2 separate regions of the Homo sapiens genome follow, and region 1 is linked to region 2. A link means that fine-mapping ties the variant in region 2 to the expression of a gene that starts in the linked region. Tissue or cell type: whole blood. Region 2 holds a variant in brackets; the other region holds the start of a gene. All regions are shown on one strand. Distances are from middle to middle.

Evidence for each region. PIP is the estimated chance that this variant, and not a neighbour inherited with it, causes the effect.
Region 1: ANGPT1 starts here. The variant in region 2 is fine-mapped to the expression of ANGPT1 in whole blood (TOPMed, PIP above 0.99).

What each region holds. Positions count from the first base shown.
Region 1 is chr8:107,493,474-107,501,625 of GRCh38, reverse strand. ANGPT1 (angiopoietin 1) reads left to right here and starts at 3,708. Exons shown (of 9, transcript NM_001146.5): 1 at 3,708-4,364. The coding sequence starts at 4,068. RefSeq lists a silencer at 9-209.
Region 2 is chr8:107,672,001-107,680,209 of GRCh38, reverse strand. No RefSeq gene overlaps it. Among named protein-coding and RNA genes, the nearest start is that of ANGPT1, 180 kb to the right of the region's middle. The variant C/T (reference allele first, on the strand shown) is at 4,850.

The DNA.
Region 1 (8,152 bases), 180 kb after region 2:
AGTTTGGCTTTATCCTCAGTTCTTCATGCCTAGGGATTCTAGGCAAACTCACCCAACAAATGCAATGAATGTGGCCAGTCATGTAGTAACCAGATAGAGAGTCAGGAAGTTGCATCAACTGAGTCATTAATCAGCTCATTCATTTATTTGCTTATTCTTTCATTCCTTCAGACAAAGTGCATAGTGAATGTTGAGGAATCAATGATGACAAAGAGAAGATCACTTTAGCAGCTCACAGCAAAAGCAAGAGACAGATAAAAAAAAAGGCAACAATTAGCAAGCAACGTGAGCAGTGCAGTTTTGGAGACATGAGGAGAAGGTTATTGAAATTTAACACAGAGAGCATTTATTGGACCTGGAGAAATTAAGAAAGCTTTACCAAAGAATTATCAAAGACTGTTTCTTAGGATAGATTTAGGCACATTAAGTTCTGGTATAAATGGCTCTTGGTCCCTTTGGAAATTTCAGACTAAGTGGGACATTTACTAGGACTCTTTGTAAATATGAGATCAAAACCTTAAAGCCTACACTTCCTTATTCCAGATCTCTAATAAAACACAAAGCTTTTGGGTTCAAGCTACCACAGAATTCAATTGAACAGAATTGTTTAGTTCTTTATAAATATTTTATCCTTCATGGAGGTGTGGTAGATGAATTTTAATTGGCTTGTTCTTATTACTCGCTTATTATTATTATTATTATTTAGAAAGGGTCTCACTCTGTCATCCAGGCTGGAGTGCAGTGGCAATCATGGCTCACTGCAGCCTCAACCCCCTGGACTCAAGCGATTCTCTCACCTCAGCTTCCTGAGTAGCTGGGACCACAGGTCCTGGGCGTGCCACCACACCTGGCTAATTTTTATTTTATTTTATCTTGGGTAGAGACAGGGAGGGTCACCCTATGCTGCCCAGGCTGTACTCAAAATCCTAGTCTCCAACGATCCTCCCACTTCGGCCTCCCAAAGTGCTGGGATTACAGGCATGAGCCACTGAACCCAGCCCTACTCCCTAAATTTTAATGCATCCTGAATTCTGCCCCATTTCTGAATAATCAGCAACACACAACAGTGTTGCTGTTGCTTAGATGCATGATCCCAAAGACATATTATCTTTAGTGTGTCAGGATCCTTAAATGTACCTACAGTCTCCTTAACTGGAGTTCCAAAAACACCGGAGTCAATTCTGCACATCCTTGTGTTTTCTAATTACTTAAAATTCATCTTCAGACATTTTTTTTCAGAATGACACTAGTACTTCCAGTGTTATGGTTTAAGGTTGATTTTGTTTTTCTGCAAAAGAAATAAATCAGTCTCTACATTTTTCTCTGTCTCTTTGTCCCTCGACCCCTCCTTTTTTATTTGCATTTCAGGCTTCTCTTTCTTAGTGTCTACTTTTCCCTCAGGAAATTGTGCATTCCTGCTTTTCATTTATTCTAATTGCGAAAATTCACATGGATAAGGACACAGAGACGTACACAGACACACACGTGGAGGAACAGATTTTTAACAGTCTCGGCTATTTAAAAACACAGGAGCACTTTAATAGAAACCTCACCACTCATCCATTAGTCTTCTGCCAATTTTCTGCTGTATTTAGTTCTTCGCAAAACACTTCTAGGTGTCGGGTTTGGACTCTCTTCTTTCCATGGATAATTTTCAAATCAAGCATTATTGGAAAGTGTTCTTAGACAACCTGCATTTTGCCAGTGCACTTCATCTTTGTGGCTGTGCATAGGTTACCTGTCACTGTGTGTGTGCGTGTGTGCGTGTGTGCGTGTGCGCGCGCACGCGTGTGCTGGAAAAGGCCTGAATCACTTTGGAGAGATACTCTGGTTTTAACAGTGCTTTTTCTTCTAGGTACGTCACTTCTCCTGGTTTAGGACTGTAAATCAATGCAGCTGGAGCGCTTTTGAAATTGCTTTCATTCCTTGCAGAGATTTCCAAAAGCAGGCTGGCCTGGTGGTTTGAAACAGGCTCTGAGTCAGTTTGCCTGAGTTCACATACTGGCGCCATCACTTGCCAGCTCTGTGAATTACATCCTGTTAGCCTTTCTGTGACTCAGTCTTCCCATTGATAAAATGGGGTTAAACGGATGATATCCGTGATCTTAGGTTTGTTGGAATGATTAAGTGAGATAGTGTGTAAGGAGTGCTTCGCCTGGAAAACAGTAAGGTCTTAATGCATGCCATTATTATTGTTGCACAGGAGTGATACATGACTCAATGAGGAGACACGCAAAAGTTCAAGAGGCTGCAAAAGTGGTTCAAATATTTTATTGCTGTGTTTGGCATAACTTGCTTCCATATCTGTCCAATCAGAAATTTGTTATTTGGTGTGGAAAGGACTGATGAATCTCGGCAAGGTTTCTTTCCCCAAGTAAATCGCATTTGTTCTGGAATTTGTTTTGACCTCTCCTCTAACTTCTCCCTAAATGCCCATCTCTAACCACTACGGACCTTCACCCACTGCCCTGTTCTCCTTCCAAGACATGGGAGATGACAGCTGTGGCTTCTGTTTTCACACCATGACTGCAGTTGTCTAAAAGCCCTCCCAGTTCCTAATGAAAATCCCAACTCATAATTCAGGTTTTCTGCATCTAGTAAAGATCTCAAAGCCGTTCCCTAAATTCTACAATTATTGCCTGTTTATGTTTATGGGTCCCTTTGTTCAAATGTTTATACGCTGCCTGTGGGAAATCATCTTCTGATAATTTTTCTTTCTTCCTTCACAGAAGCACAGAGATGTCTCCTGTACAGCCCATTGCTGGCTGTTAGCACACCTGATATATGCTTGTTCTCACATAGTATGTCTGTGCAGCCACAGGAGGTTTTTATGTGGAACTTCCACACCAGTGTTAAAGACAGCCATAGCCACCAAAGAGATCCTTGTAAAATACAGGATTAGGATATACCACAGGAATTAATAATTCTCAAGCCACTGCTTTAAATTGTAGCCACATTGTTTTTGTAGGGAAGTTGCTCAATTTATATACACAGAACATGAAGGGTTGCATTCTGATCAGGACACCAGTTTCATTTAAGAACCCTATACCAAAAGGTACTTAGATAACCCTCTTTAATATGCACATACTATATTGCTTTGTGCAACATATTGCTTTGAGCAACAAATGATGCTAATTTTCTTGCTAATTTGATCCTCTCTGATTATTTTCTTCAACTCCTAAAAGTCTAAGTGAATACAATGAAAGAATACCATCTGTAAAAACTGTTTTTTAACATATTTTTCCTCAGAGTCAAGAATACATGTTTTTTAAAGACATTTAATAATGATATGGGTTTATCATTCTCTATCAAAAATAATTCCATTGGACATTATGCCAATTTTCTTCTTAGGGTCCCTCGACTAAATAGTAACTTTAAAAACATACTGCTAGTTTGCTATATTTTAGTAGGTCAGCATGCACACCAAAAGTGTATTAAGGTGGACTGCTCTATTTATTGATTTGCCATGAATCTGCTAAAGGCTCAAGGCAATTGTCTGTGGAAAGGGGCGGGAGGGCCATACATGATCGAGGTCATGCGCATCTAGCCAATTTGTAAGACGATCCCGCCGCCCTAAGCCATCAGCAATCCTTAGTATAGGGGCACACTCATGCATTCCTGTCAAGTCATCTTGTGAAAGGCTGCCTGCTTCCAGCTTGGCTTGGATGTGCAACCTTAATAAAACTCACTGAGGTCTGGGAGAAAATAGCAGATCTGCAGCAGATAGGGTAGAGGAAAGGGTCTAGAATATGTACACGCAGCTGACTCAGGCAGGCTCCATGCTGAACGGTCACACAGAGAGGAAACAATAAATCTCAGCTACTATGCAATAAATATCTCAAGTTTTAACGAAGAAAAACATCATTGCAGTGAAATAAAAAATTTTAAAATTTTAGAACAAAGCTAACAAATGGCTAGTTTTCTATGATTCTTCTTCAAACGCTTTCTTTGAGGGGGAAAGAGTCAAACAAACAAGCAGTTTTACCTGAAATAAAGAACTAGTTTTAGAGGTCAGAAGAAAGGAGCAAGTTTTGCGAGAGGCACGGAAGGAGTGTGCTGGCAGTACAATGACAGTTTTCCTTTCCTTTGCTTTCCTCGCTGCCATTCTGACTCACATAGGGTGCAGCAATCAGCGCCGAAGTCCAGAAAACAGTGGGAGAAGATATAACCGGATTCAACATGGGCAATGTGCCTACACTTTCATTCTTCCAGAACACGATGGCAACTGTCGTGAGAGTACGACAGACCAGTACAACACAAACGCTCTGCAGAGAGATGCTCCACACGTGGAACCGGATTTCTCTTCCCAGAAACTTCAACATCTGGAACATGTGATGGAAAATTATACTCAGTGGCTGCAAAAAGTAAGTGATTGCTTTCAGTTTCTAATAGCACGGACCTTTTTCCTTTCTTGCACTGCAGCTAACTTAAAGTTCCTTAGGGGAGCATTTGTGTATTTACCTTTTGCTCCAGGGGGGCAGTGTTTGCAATTGCAAGACGGCTGTCTGGGTTTGGCTTCCTGGGTAAGCCAAGGTTTGGGGGCTTGCCCAAACCTATGAATGTGTGGGGGCACCCCGTTTGTGTGTCTAGCCCTGGCAAATTTTATGACATTTTTGGTTTCTCTTTTCTAAAGTTCAGCATTAAGGTTCTCTCTGTCAAAACACTACCTTAAGAAAGAAAGTATGTACCTCTTAAGCAAGTTGGTGAAAAATAAATAATAATGACAATATTAATTAATAAGATCAAATCGATTTTGCACCAGAAAATTTTGTGCCGCTGGGGTGGCAAATCATCACAAAGTATTTGTTTTTTTAACCTTTATAAAAATTAACATGAAGTGAGAGTAAATATAAAATATGATATTTGGTTGGAGAAATTGTATATTTATGTAAAGGGAACTGTTAGTTTCAGCAAGTGGTAGAATAGTAGACTGATTTCTGTTAAATATTTTTTTCTTCTGTCCTTGAGAAAAAAAATTAAAAAGATACATTGTAATGTTAACTGTCGGAAAGGGGTTGCTCGCTCACGATGAGGGCATGCTGGCTGTTGAGGAAGACATGCACCTGCAGATATGGGCTGAACGCAGCATGTAGTCTACTATATTCCTGAAATACCTCCCTTCTCAGGGCATTGTAGTTAGAGACAGTACCTGGCGAGTTTAAGTATCCATGTTATTTGATGAATGTTAATGTTGAGTATGAATGTAATCTCAATTTATAGAAATCAAATCGAATAGTTTATCCAGTTATTTATCTACAAACCATTTAAGTTTTTGTTGAAGATAAGCCTATTAAATTATGAACACACTTCTGCAATTCATTCTGTCTTTGCACTCTGTTTAATAATAGGCAGCCGAGAATAAGTATATTCAACTGACTATGCTACTAGAAGGGAGGCAATGTCTCAATTTGTGAAAAGCTTCTCTCCCTTGTTAATGGATTCACTTGGTACATGTAGATAGGTATGCAATCAGGCTTCTTTAAGTTAGTCTGTTAACCGGGCAATCCCTTTAAAAAGATAAAAGATAGGGAAAGGACAAATGCTCTATTTTGTTCCTGTGTGGTCACACTCACTTAGGTCATTGCCTGCTGAATCATGCCAAGTAATAGTTATTCTACTTTTGTCCACTAGGGACTGAACTAAGATCACTGTTATTTTATTTGACACATTAACTGGAACTTAGTAGTTCTACAGTTTCCAAAGCTGATATTGTAATCTTTCTATTACAGACTATAGGACTGTAATAGGCAATCAGTAGGTAGGCAGAAGAATAAAAAGCAAACAGAACTCTCAGGTTTTTTACAATTGTAGCTGAAATTTTATGCATTACTTTCAGTAGTAGTTTATAATAGGATGTTTGTATTTTTCTTTGGTAAAATTTATTTCCATTGTAAACAAATGATTTTGGTTGAACAGCTTGTTATTATTCTTCAGTACACCATCCGTATAGTTTTTAGTGAGAATTCAATCATTACATATTAGTCTGGATTCTTTGAGGGAACGGGAAGGAAAATTTAGTCCCAAGTTATCCTGAATGATCTATTCTACCAAAAACGTAATGTTTTGTTTGCTTAAAGCGTATAATCACAATAGTGATTCAAACATAGTAATGCATATTTCTTGTTGCTATGCAATTATTCAGCAGTGACAGGGTAAACACATAATTCTGCTGGGCTTAAATCATGCACGTGTTTCATATGTTAATTTATTTTGCAAAATAAATTTGATTCTTGTTTGCATTGTTCTTGGTCAATGATTATGGGATAGCTTTCAGATTATAGCCAAGAATAACTATTAAAATGTTCTTTGGTTACATTCACCCTTTCAAGTGTAAAAATCAAGCTGAATATATGCTGAAAACGTCCCTATTGGTATGAGTCAGAGCAATGTGGCTTGACTATTGTCAGTTTAAATTTGCATATCTTTTGTCATTGTCAATGTGATTGGTTGGAGGATCAAGAAACCAAAAAATGCATTCAGCAAAGAACTTGCTAAAGGCTTTCATAAGTTTCCCTTAATTAGGAGTTTTCTTCACTCCAAGTTCTAAACTTCATGTGATATTTTTATTCTGATAATTGAAATGGAAATCTTTTTACTGTAACCATTTGGTATGCTCAGTACTGCAATTTGTATTACTTCTATTTTGATTCCAAGTAGTTGCCATAGGAAGAAGCAACACCCTGCAGAAACTGAGGCTATCAGTGTATGTAGGTGAAATTAATTTATCCATTTATTTGGCAAAATAATTAATCAAAGCATAGTGATTATTATGCAGCTCATGGCATCGCTATCAGGAAAGGTTTTGAGGCAGAATAGATGTGTTATCAACTCTAAATGAAGCTATATGATAATTATGTTAATCCATCACCTTCCATGAAGGGAAACCTCCTTCCTCAACTTTTCTGGTCTTGCAACTGAACAGGATGAGAAGCAAGGCATGCAAGGGGGCAAATGATTTGTGGGTCACCATAAATACTGGAACTGTTATGGCACTGCTTTCTTGATGTGATGGATTTAATTCAAAGAAATCAACTTTCCATAATCACTTGTCGATTAAAATGAGGTAGGTTGATAGCATTATTGTGACATCTCAGACCAGGAAGGGTGGTGTGAATAATATGCCTAACATCATAGTTTTATTTTGTGAAACACCTGGGTGTGTTTCTGGTTTGATCTCTTCTGTAATACAGCTCTTTTTGGAATTATTAGCAAGTCATAGTAAATACCTGAGAGTGACCAGCTCTTAGATAAGTAATGATAAATACAGCTGGCCTCTGTGTCTTTGTCACTTTCTTATGATCTCTCCCTACCTCTCTATGACAGTGAAACATTTAGCCCACATCCTGTACTTTGTGAACTATTGTTTTCTGTCTCCCACATCTCAAAAAGTTCACAAAGATGTACATTTAAAATATTTAGATTTAAATATGTATAATGTTCTAAGATTTGGGGAATCCTTAGAAGATCTGTTTTGCTTTTGCCAAATGATGTCTTTTTTTGTTAAAAGTTTAAATAAATTGAGTCAATAATGCCTTGTAACAGAAAACAATAGTCTATTTGCTATACATATTTTACACTAGCTAAAATTGATGACTATTAATGGAAAATATAGTTATGAATTGCCATCCAGAATATTTTAAGAAATACAAAGATTTTACTGGACTATTTAGCTGTTTTTCTATTGACAACATTTTTTGGTTAAGGATGTCCCCTATTTGCATATTGTATTCTTTTCTTCAGAGTTAAGATTTGAAATGCTATTACCCAAAACACATTGATGATGACGATTTTTTTAAACCCATATATTACATATATATTAATCCCTATTAATATCCATTAGAATGTGACCTCCATGAGGCCAGTGACCATGTGTGTTTGTCCAATGTCATAACCTCAGTTCCCAGAAGAGTATATAACATATTTATAACAGATATGCAATAAATATGTGTTAAATGAAAAAATGAATGCATTATCTATTGCATTCTGCACTTTACTGTCTACTGTCAGCATTTTATTCGAGGTATACACCTTACCTCTTCAATAGATTGTAAGTTGTCCTATAGGCAAGGACTATAACCTATGGTTATTTTTGTCCTAATACTAGTTAAAACAATATTGGGTCCAGAGTAGGTGGTTATTAATTATTCAAATT
Region 2 (8,209 bases):
ATGCAGTTTATGCTTCACTGTGTGTACTTTTAGAGTAATTCCAAACATGATGTTTGATAATATATTGAGAAGTAGGTGTTTGTTCTTCATCTTCTTTCACTCTCTGTCCCATGACACGACGTTCATGTTCCTTGAACAGCACGTGCATCCGCACATTAATTTAAACTCAACTTGATTACTTGGATCACCAGTGGCCTCTTGATAAGGATTTGCTTTGCCTGTGGGTTGTCTTGAGGCCAAGCATTATGTGTTGCTTGGATTTTTCTTATGAGGCTTGTTACTGGCTCTCAAACCCAGCATTCAACAAAAATCAGCTATCCAATGAAGTTAATCTGTCAGCCTAAGAATTTTCATTCTGGTGCTGAAAACAAAAGCCTTTGTAGGAAAAATCAAGTTGTTTAGCAAGTTAGACATGTTTTAAACATGTTTATGAGCTGATATCCATTCCTTCTCAGGCCTCACAATTAAGATTCTAATCCCCACTCTCTTGGAATTTGTGAAACCAATTTGAAGGACTCTGTGTAGTTTCAATAAACCTGTGTTAGGATTTATGTGGCCATAAAGGTGAAAGGATCCAGACCTAAATGCAAGCCCACTGAAGCATTGAAAATTCATATTCCGTGAATGAAAGTCACCAAAAATTACGAAGGTAGTTTGTAGAGTTTTACACATTCTCTGGAACATGCTCATGGAGTAGGAAAAGTGAGAGAATAAAAAAAACTACCATAGATTATCCTTCTCAAGGCAGTCATCCTTTATTTGAGAATTGTATTAACTTTTTGGGAATAGCTTTATTCTTTGTAGATTTTTGCTCTCATAAAGATGTTGACATATGATAACAATTCTGTTTTTAAAGGTGCTATGAGAACCAATCAATCCTTTATGAGTTAAATTGTGTCACCCTAAAAATGATATGTTGAAGTCCTAACCTCCTGTAGCTCAGAATGTGACTTTATTTGGAAATAGAGTCTTTGGAGATTTAACCAAGTTAAGATGAAGGGATTAGGGTGGGCTGTCATCCAATGACTGCCATCCTTATAAAAGGGAAATTTGAACAAAGATATACAGAGAAGGTGATGTGAATATGGCTGTGTGATGATGGAAGCATGGATTGGACGATGCAGCTGCAAGCAAGGAATGCCCACGGCTGCTGCCTACATCTAGAAGCTAGGAAGAGGCAAGGAAGGATTCTGCTGAAAGTCTCAGAGGGAGCATGGCCCTGCTGACTCCTGAATTTGGGACTTTTAGCCTCCAGAATTGTGAGACAACATGTATTTTCTTTTTTAAACCATCTAATATCACATACTTTTCTATGGTAGCCCTAAGCAAAATAATATACAATTCATTGTCCTTCATGAAAACACATCTGGAAGAATAGATAAGTGATAGAATATAATGCTGTTTGTCATTAATATATATTCTTTCAATCTATTTTTTAATGTTTTAAATGATAAATTTCTATTATTAATACAAAAGCTACACATATTCATTATGGAAAATGTTAAAAATAGAGAAAAGTGATCTGAATTGGTTCTTGCTCCATATAGTCTCTTCTCCAAAACATACCAAGGCAATCATCCTTTAAGAATTTTATTAACATTTTGGGAGAAGCTCTATTTCCTTCTCTGTAAATTTTTGCTTTCATAAAGAAGTTGGTACAGTCAAAGCATTTAGAGGGAACTGGTTAAAATACTGATCTTGCCTATTCTCTGATTGGAAGCTTTAATATCTACCATCTCTCTCACAGCAAAGTCCATAGGATTATATGGACCTATGATCCATATAAATCATGACAGCAAGAGTTCTCAATAACCTGGGGCTGTCTGAAAACTTCTGATGTCTGGGCTCTATCCTAGATAAATTCCGACAGAATCTCTGAGACTGCAGCCTGGGCACAGGTATTCTGAGAATCTTCCTGGGGATTCTAATGTACTCCAAGGTGAAGAAACATTGCCTATCATAATCTCTGCTCCCCATTCCTGAAACCCCTTCTTTTTGCCCCTGTTATCTTTTTGATCATATCTTTTATGGCCTTCCACCTCACTTACTCCACCTCAGCCACACTAGCCTTCTTGTGGACTTTTCTTGTCTTTTGAGATGGAGTCTCACTCTGTTGCCCAGGTTGGAGTGCAGTGGCATGATCTCGGCTCACTGCAACCTCGGCCTCCTGGGTTCAAGCAATTCTCCTGCCTCAGCCTCCCGAGTAGTGGGACTACAGGCACACACCACCACGCCAGGCTACTTTTTGTACTATTAGTAGAGATGAGGTTTCACCATGTTGGCCAGGCTGGTCTTGAACTCCTGACCTCCTGATCCACCTGCCTTGGCCTCCCAAAGTGCTGAGATTACAGGCATGAGCCACCACACCCAGCCTTTTGCAGCCTTTTCAAGCTTGTTCATGCATGTTCTCACGTGCTGTTTGTTATCTCACCACTCTCACAGCTATCCAACCACCTGACTGGCTCCCTCACTTCTCTCAGGTCTCTGCTCAAAGGAAAGCTTATCAGAAAGGCCTTTTTTTGACCCTTTTAATAAAATACTCCCCCTATCCCAACCCTTACACACTGCTGCCCTCATGCTTCTTTTCCTTCTAGTCTGTTTTATTTTTCTTCATACATTTAACAACCTCTGAACTATTATTTCACTTATTTATTTTTTAATTATCTGCCACATCCAACTTGAATGTAAGCCCCCTGAGGGCAAGGACTTGGTGTTGTTGTTCACTGCTATATCCCCAGCATAATGAGTGACAGAATAGTCATTCAATATTTATTTGTTGAACCAATAAATGAATTGAGGTAGGATTGGGGGATATTCTGACTCGTGAAATGAAATTATGTCCTTGTGGGTTTGTATTGCATATACATTAATTGAAGGAAAAGTGGCCAAATAAATAACTAAAATTGATGAGTGCCTCTAAATTTTTGTTTAGTGATATTAAACTAATTCCAAAATGTGTTATAAATAAATAAGTATATTAAGGAAATATTTGGGTATTTTTCTGAAAAAGATGGGCTTTTGTCTATTTACAACTTTGCTAGAAGGACTTAATTCCATGTTTATTCAATTTTGGAGTTAACTTCTCCTATCACGGCTGTCCTGATCATTTTATTACAATAAACTGATAAAAGGTAAACTGAAGCAAAATACAATTTTAAAGAGTTTATCTGAGCAAACAATGATCCACAAATAGGGCAGCTCCAAGCAGAAGTAGTTTGGGGGCTCCAACAAGTGAACACAAAGGCAAGGCTTCTATAGGATGAACATGAATGTAAAGCAACTAAAATATTTGATTGGTTATGGTTATATATTAGCCATATTTGGTCTATCCTACTCAAAAGTTCCCAGTTATATGAACTGTTACAGGATTAATTTTCCATAATGATCATAAGTTAATGGGCAACTTCTGATTGGTTGAGCTTGTTTTATTTATTTTTTAAAAAATATAGGCACTTACAAGAAACAGCCCAAGTTAAGTTTGACTTATGTTTGCAAATCAAACAAAGTTAAGACCACTTATGAGGCCTAACTGGCTTTGTCTACTTTGGGATTCTTCAGGCCCGGTCTCTATTTTAACTTACTTTGACAAAACAAAACAAAATAAAAGAACAAGAGAAATTCATGCATATTCTGAATATGTTTAAACCTTCAGTGTCTTCCTGACATTTCTCTTTCTATTTCTCAGTCATTTCCTTTGCTTAATATTTTAATTTTCTGCTTGTCCTTTTACTCTAAAAACTCCAGATCATAATTCTTTATCTTCATTTTTTACTCATACCTCGAATATTGTTATTGGCCCTGTCCTCATTATACCCAGGCTGGAGTGTGCACAGCGTAATCCTGGGTCACTGCAGTCTCTGCCTCCCAGGCTCAAGTGATTCTCCTACCTTAGCCTCCCCAGTAGTTGGGACTACAGGTGTACACCACCATGCCCAACTAATTTTTGTGTTTTTAGTGGAGACAGGGTTTCACCATGTTGCCCAGGCTGGTCTCAAACTCATGAGCCCAAGTGATCTACCATCCTCAGCCTCCCAAAGTGCTGGGATTACAGGTGTAAGCCACCAAGCCTGGCCTAATTATACATATTCTTGAATGTTCTTTTCTGTCCCCAGTAACTTCAATGGTTTTCACTTTGGTTGCTCTTTAGAATATCTAGAGAGTCTTCAAAAGTAGCAATGACTAGTTCACCATTTGAATAAGAAGCTCTGGGTTGAAGTTCAAACATTCGTTTCAAAAACTCCTTGGGTAATTCTAATGGGTAGCCAGAATTGAGAACCACTGATGGATGTTTAAAACCTCTCAGATCACAGATTGAACATTTTCTGTATTTTTGAGGCAGAGGATAATATAAATGAGGTGTAAGTTGGCAGAGTAGAGAATGGATTGTACCAAAGAATATCAACGGGAGAGACTGGAGGAAAAGTCAGTTTTTGCAAGTGATGAGAACCTGAATTTAGAACACTGGTGATAAAGGTGGAAAGATAACAGATTATACAGACACTAGGGAGGAGTTTTCAATAAAATATTGCTGTATGACAAACTACCTCAAAATTTAGTGGCTCAAAATAATTGCTGGCTTAAAAAGACAGCAGTTTTTTCCTAATAAATTTGCAGTTTGGCTAGGTCTCAGTGGGAATGTCCTGTTTCTGCTCTGTGTGATATCACCTCATGTGGCTCAGTGGATCTGAAGAGTCTGATTTTAAGATGGTTCACTCACATGGCCGATAATTCCTACTGGCTGTCACTTTGCAGCTTGGCTAAGGCTGTGGTTCTGAGAGCTTTGATTTCCTTAAAATGGGCTTCTCCATAGGTTGCTTGGGTTTCCTCACAGTATGGTGGCTAGTTTCAA[C/T]AGCAAGCATTTCAAAAGAACAAAGGGGAAGTGAATTGCATTTTTATAACTTAACTCAGAAGTCAACTTAACATTGTTTCTAGTATTTTGGTTGAGGCAGTAGAAAGGCCAACTTAGATTCAAGAAAAAGGGGCATCGATTCCACATCTTAATAGACACAGCAGGAAGGTTTGAGAAGAAATATAGGCTAGGAGATGTGGTGGCCATCTTAAGACACTACAGTCTACCACCATGTTGGGAACTGATTGGAAGAGGACAATGAAAAGTGAAGAAGGAAGAGCAAAAGTAATTTAAGCAAAAACAATCTTAAATTGCTTTTTAGGATTACATACAATCTCAAATTGTATGCTTACTAGGGTTATTATCCTCCAAAAGTAATACTGTTATTAACTAGGGCTGTGGGGAAATATTGTTTGTATTATATGTTCCTAAACCCTAGGGTGTACTTCATTTCATTTGCTTTGTTCAGCACCTGGATTGTACATTAACAATGGATAATGCTTTGGAAGGGTGATGATAGTTTTCTAAAAGTTTTCAGAGACCTTTAATACTTAGGCTATTCTTACACATTCAACCGATTAAATTTTTTGGCTAAATGTACACATCAACTCAAACACCTGGTAAAGTTAGTAAAAAAAAAAAAATAAAACCGAAAAACAAATATAAAACCAATTACTGAAACCTGATGACTTTGTTTTTAAAAGGAAAAGCCCATGATTTTCTTTTTAAAGAAAATAGGAAGCCAATCATTCCAACTCACTATTATTATTTTAAAAGATAATACAGAGAATTTCCTGACTTAACTCTGATCCATTTCCAATTATAGGCTTCCATGTTTGAGAATACAAAATGGGCCCTGTGGAATCAGCTCTCTGTCTTAAGTAAATTTATTAAATATTTTTTAAAAAGAAATGACCACCAGAGTCCATTTGAAAAGTAAGCTTACTGTGGCAGTCCCAGGGTTAGCTGCAATGAATATAATGTGATGATAATGACTATGATGAGTGGTAGCTAAGAAAATGTAGATAGAACAGTGTTCTAGGTTCCTTTTGGCTCATTTATCCCCATTGGCAATCACCCCAAAAGAGGGGCTCACACCCAGCTCTGCCTTGTCCATGTGAGTTCTTGGTTCACAAAGTCTCATACAGCAGAAGAATAAAGGGAAGGAGAATTGAAAAATCCTTTTCGGTGGTTTTGTTGCAAGCCTAAGTTTGTCAAACACTCTAGCTGCATATTTTTCCTAGAATGAAATATTCTCATGGCTGCCTAGATTTGTTGTTTTTGTCAAAGTTCAAATTGTATGAATCATGTAAAAAGGATATAATTAAATGTATAAGAAACTTTAATATTAGGAAAACAGGTGAGTGGCAAAGCACTGTTAACATATTCATGCATTAAGCAAATATTTATTAAATGCTTACAATGTGCAAAACAGTATCAAGTGATATAAGAAGCTTGTTCTGATTTAGATCAAACTTGGATACAAGAGTTGATCTTTCTTGTTGGTCCAGTATTCACTTTCATTCAGTTAAGTTTACAAAGCTGCACATTGCTTACAATTTGACTCATCGACTGGAAGGTTTTTATTATTGCTTTCTCTTTTCCCAGGCTTTTCATTGACTGTCTGAATACACACCATGAAATCAGCACCATTGGCTTCAAAGACATTTATTAAAACGATGCATTTGTAAGAAGAAATTTTATGAGATCTGTGGCTTATGAAGTCCTTGATCTATTTAATCCAGATGATTGGATCCTAATGTTTGCAGCAAAGACAGGCCCTAATGCTTATAGGTAAGATGAGAGAAGTTTTAAACTAATCAATTGCAACAGGGTGCACAGTTCCTTTTCGATGACTATGACCCTCACATTTATTACCTTTGTTTTTTTTTTTTTCTAGGTCCACTCAGCATAAAGTTAAAAGTGCTTACATGCTAGACAGCTCTCTTGGAGGAGTAGCCTGCAAAAACTATATCTTTAAAGGTTTATTTTCTGTGTAGCTATACTTGAGTGAATGTGTGTGTGTGTGTGTGTACATTCAAGATCTGTACATCTTATTCATAAAAATGAACCAATCAATATCTACCAAAGAAAAGTTCAAGAATGCAAATTTTTAAGAGCAAAAATGATAAAAACACAGAAAGAGCTTTTCTTAGGCAATGATCTTATCATTGAAAGACGTTTCAACACAGTAAAATAGATTTTGGCTGAGGAACAAAGACATTTATTAAGTACCTTCTATATCCACGTCAGGCACTGGGTAGTCATTGGAAAATCAAAGATGAATTAAGATTTGGCTCACACCTCTGGGAAGTTGTGGGGGGTAGGGAGGGGTTAAAGAACTTGACTCAGGTGTAAAGAAAAATAATGCACTAGCACATATGCTGTGGTAGTTACCTGCAGGAAGGAGTTGAGGAAGATACTTGAACTGGTGGTTGAAGCATGACTAGGGGTTTTCTAGGCAGAAATGACAGGACATTATGTTCCAGGAAAATAACCACAGGGACAAGATACCATGGAGGAAAAACACACACATGCAACCAAATTGCCAAACCCCAGGAGCCTGTAAGAGAAAGCAGCACAGGACAGATCAGGATGGTTCAGAGACTTGGACAGTGTAAGACACCAGCTGGAGACTGGAAGGACTTGAGGATTTACAGCTCTTGACAAATAAAGAGGGAGAAATTATCAGTGGCTATTCAACAGCAAGGACAGCGTTTCCAAACCAGCCTAGTCAGGGGCAGCCTTGCAGGGCAGTTATAAACAGAGTCTGTGGAGCCAGATTGCCTGGTTTGCATCATTGATATATCACTTACTCCCTGTGGGACCTTGGGCAAGTTACTTAACTCTCTGGGTTTCAGTTTACTCATCACCAAAGGAAGACGGATGACAACAAAAGTATGAGGTTGATACTGTGAGAATTGTATGAGTTAATGTACATGCACATGGACCAGTGTTGACATGATATGTGCTATTGAAATGTGGTTAAAGATGGAGGTTTACATCATTGACATGTGCACAAGAGGACCAGATGAATGACATGACACCCACTGTATCAGTAAGGCTGTGTGTGATTGGGGAAGTGAACCACTATAGCTGATAAAGAGCAAAGGATTTATTATATGATGATCTTATACACCTTACACAGGTACTGGTTAAGCATTATATGTAGTTCTGCTACCTCTATATTTGAAGTGGGGCCAAAAGTTGGCAGGGTGAACACTTGAGCAGATAGATGGATGACATGAAGTCAGGGAGGCAATGGGAAGCCTGGAAGTTGTATCAGTATCTCATGCCTTCATGTCTCGTTTTTCATGATTTAGGTGACATGCAGAAGCTGGTGCCCTTCTTTACAGAGCT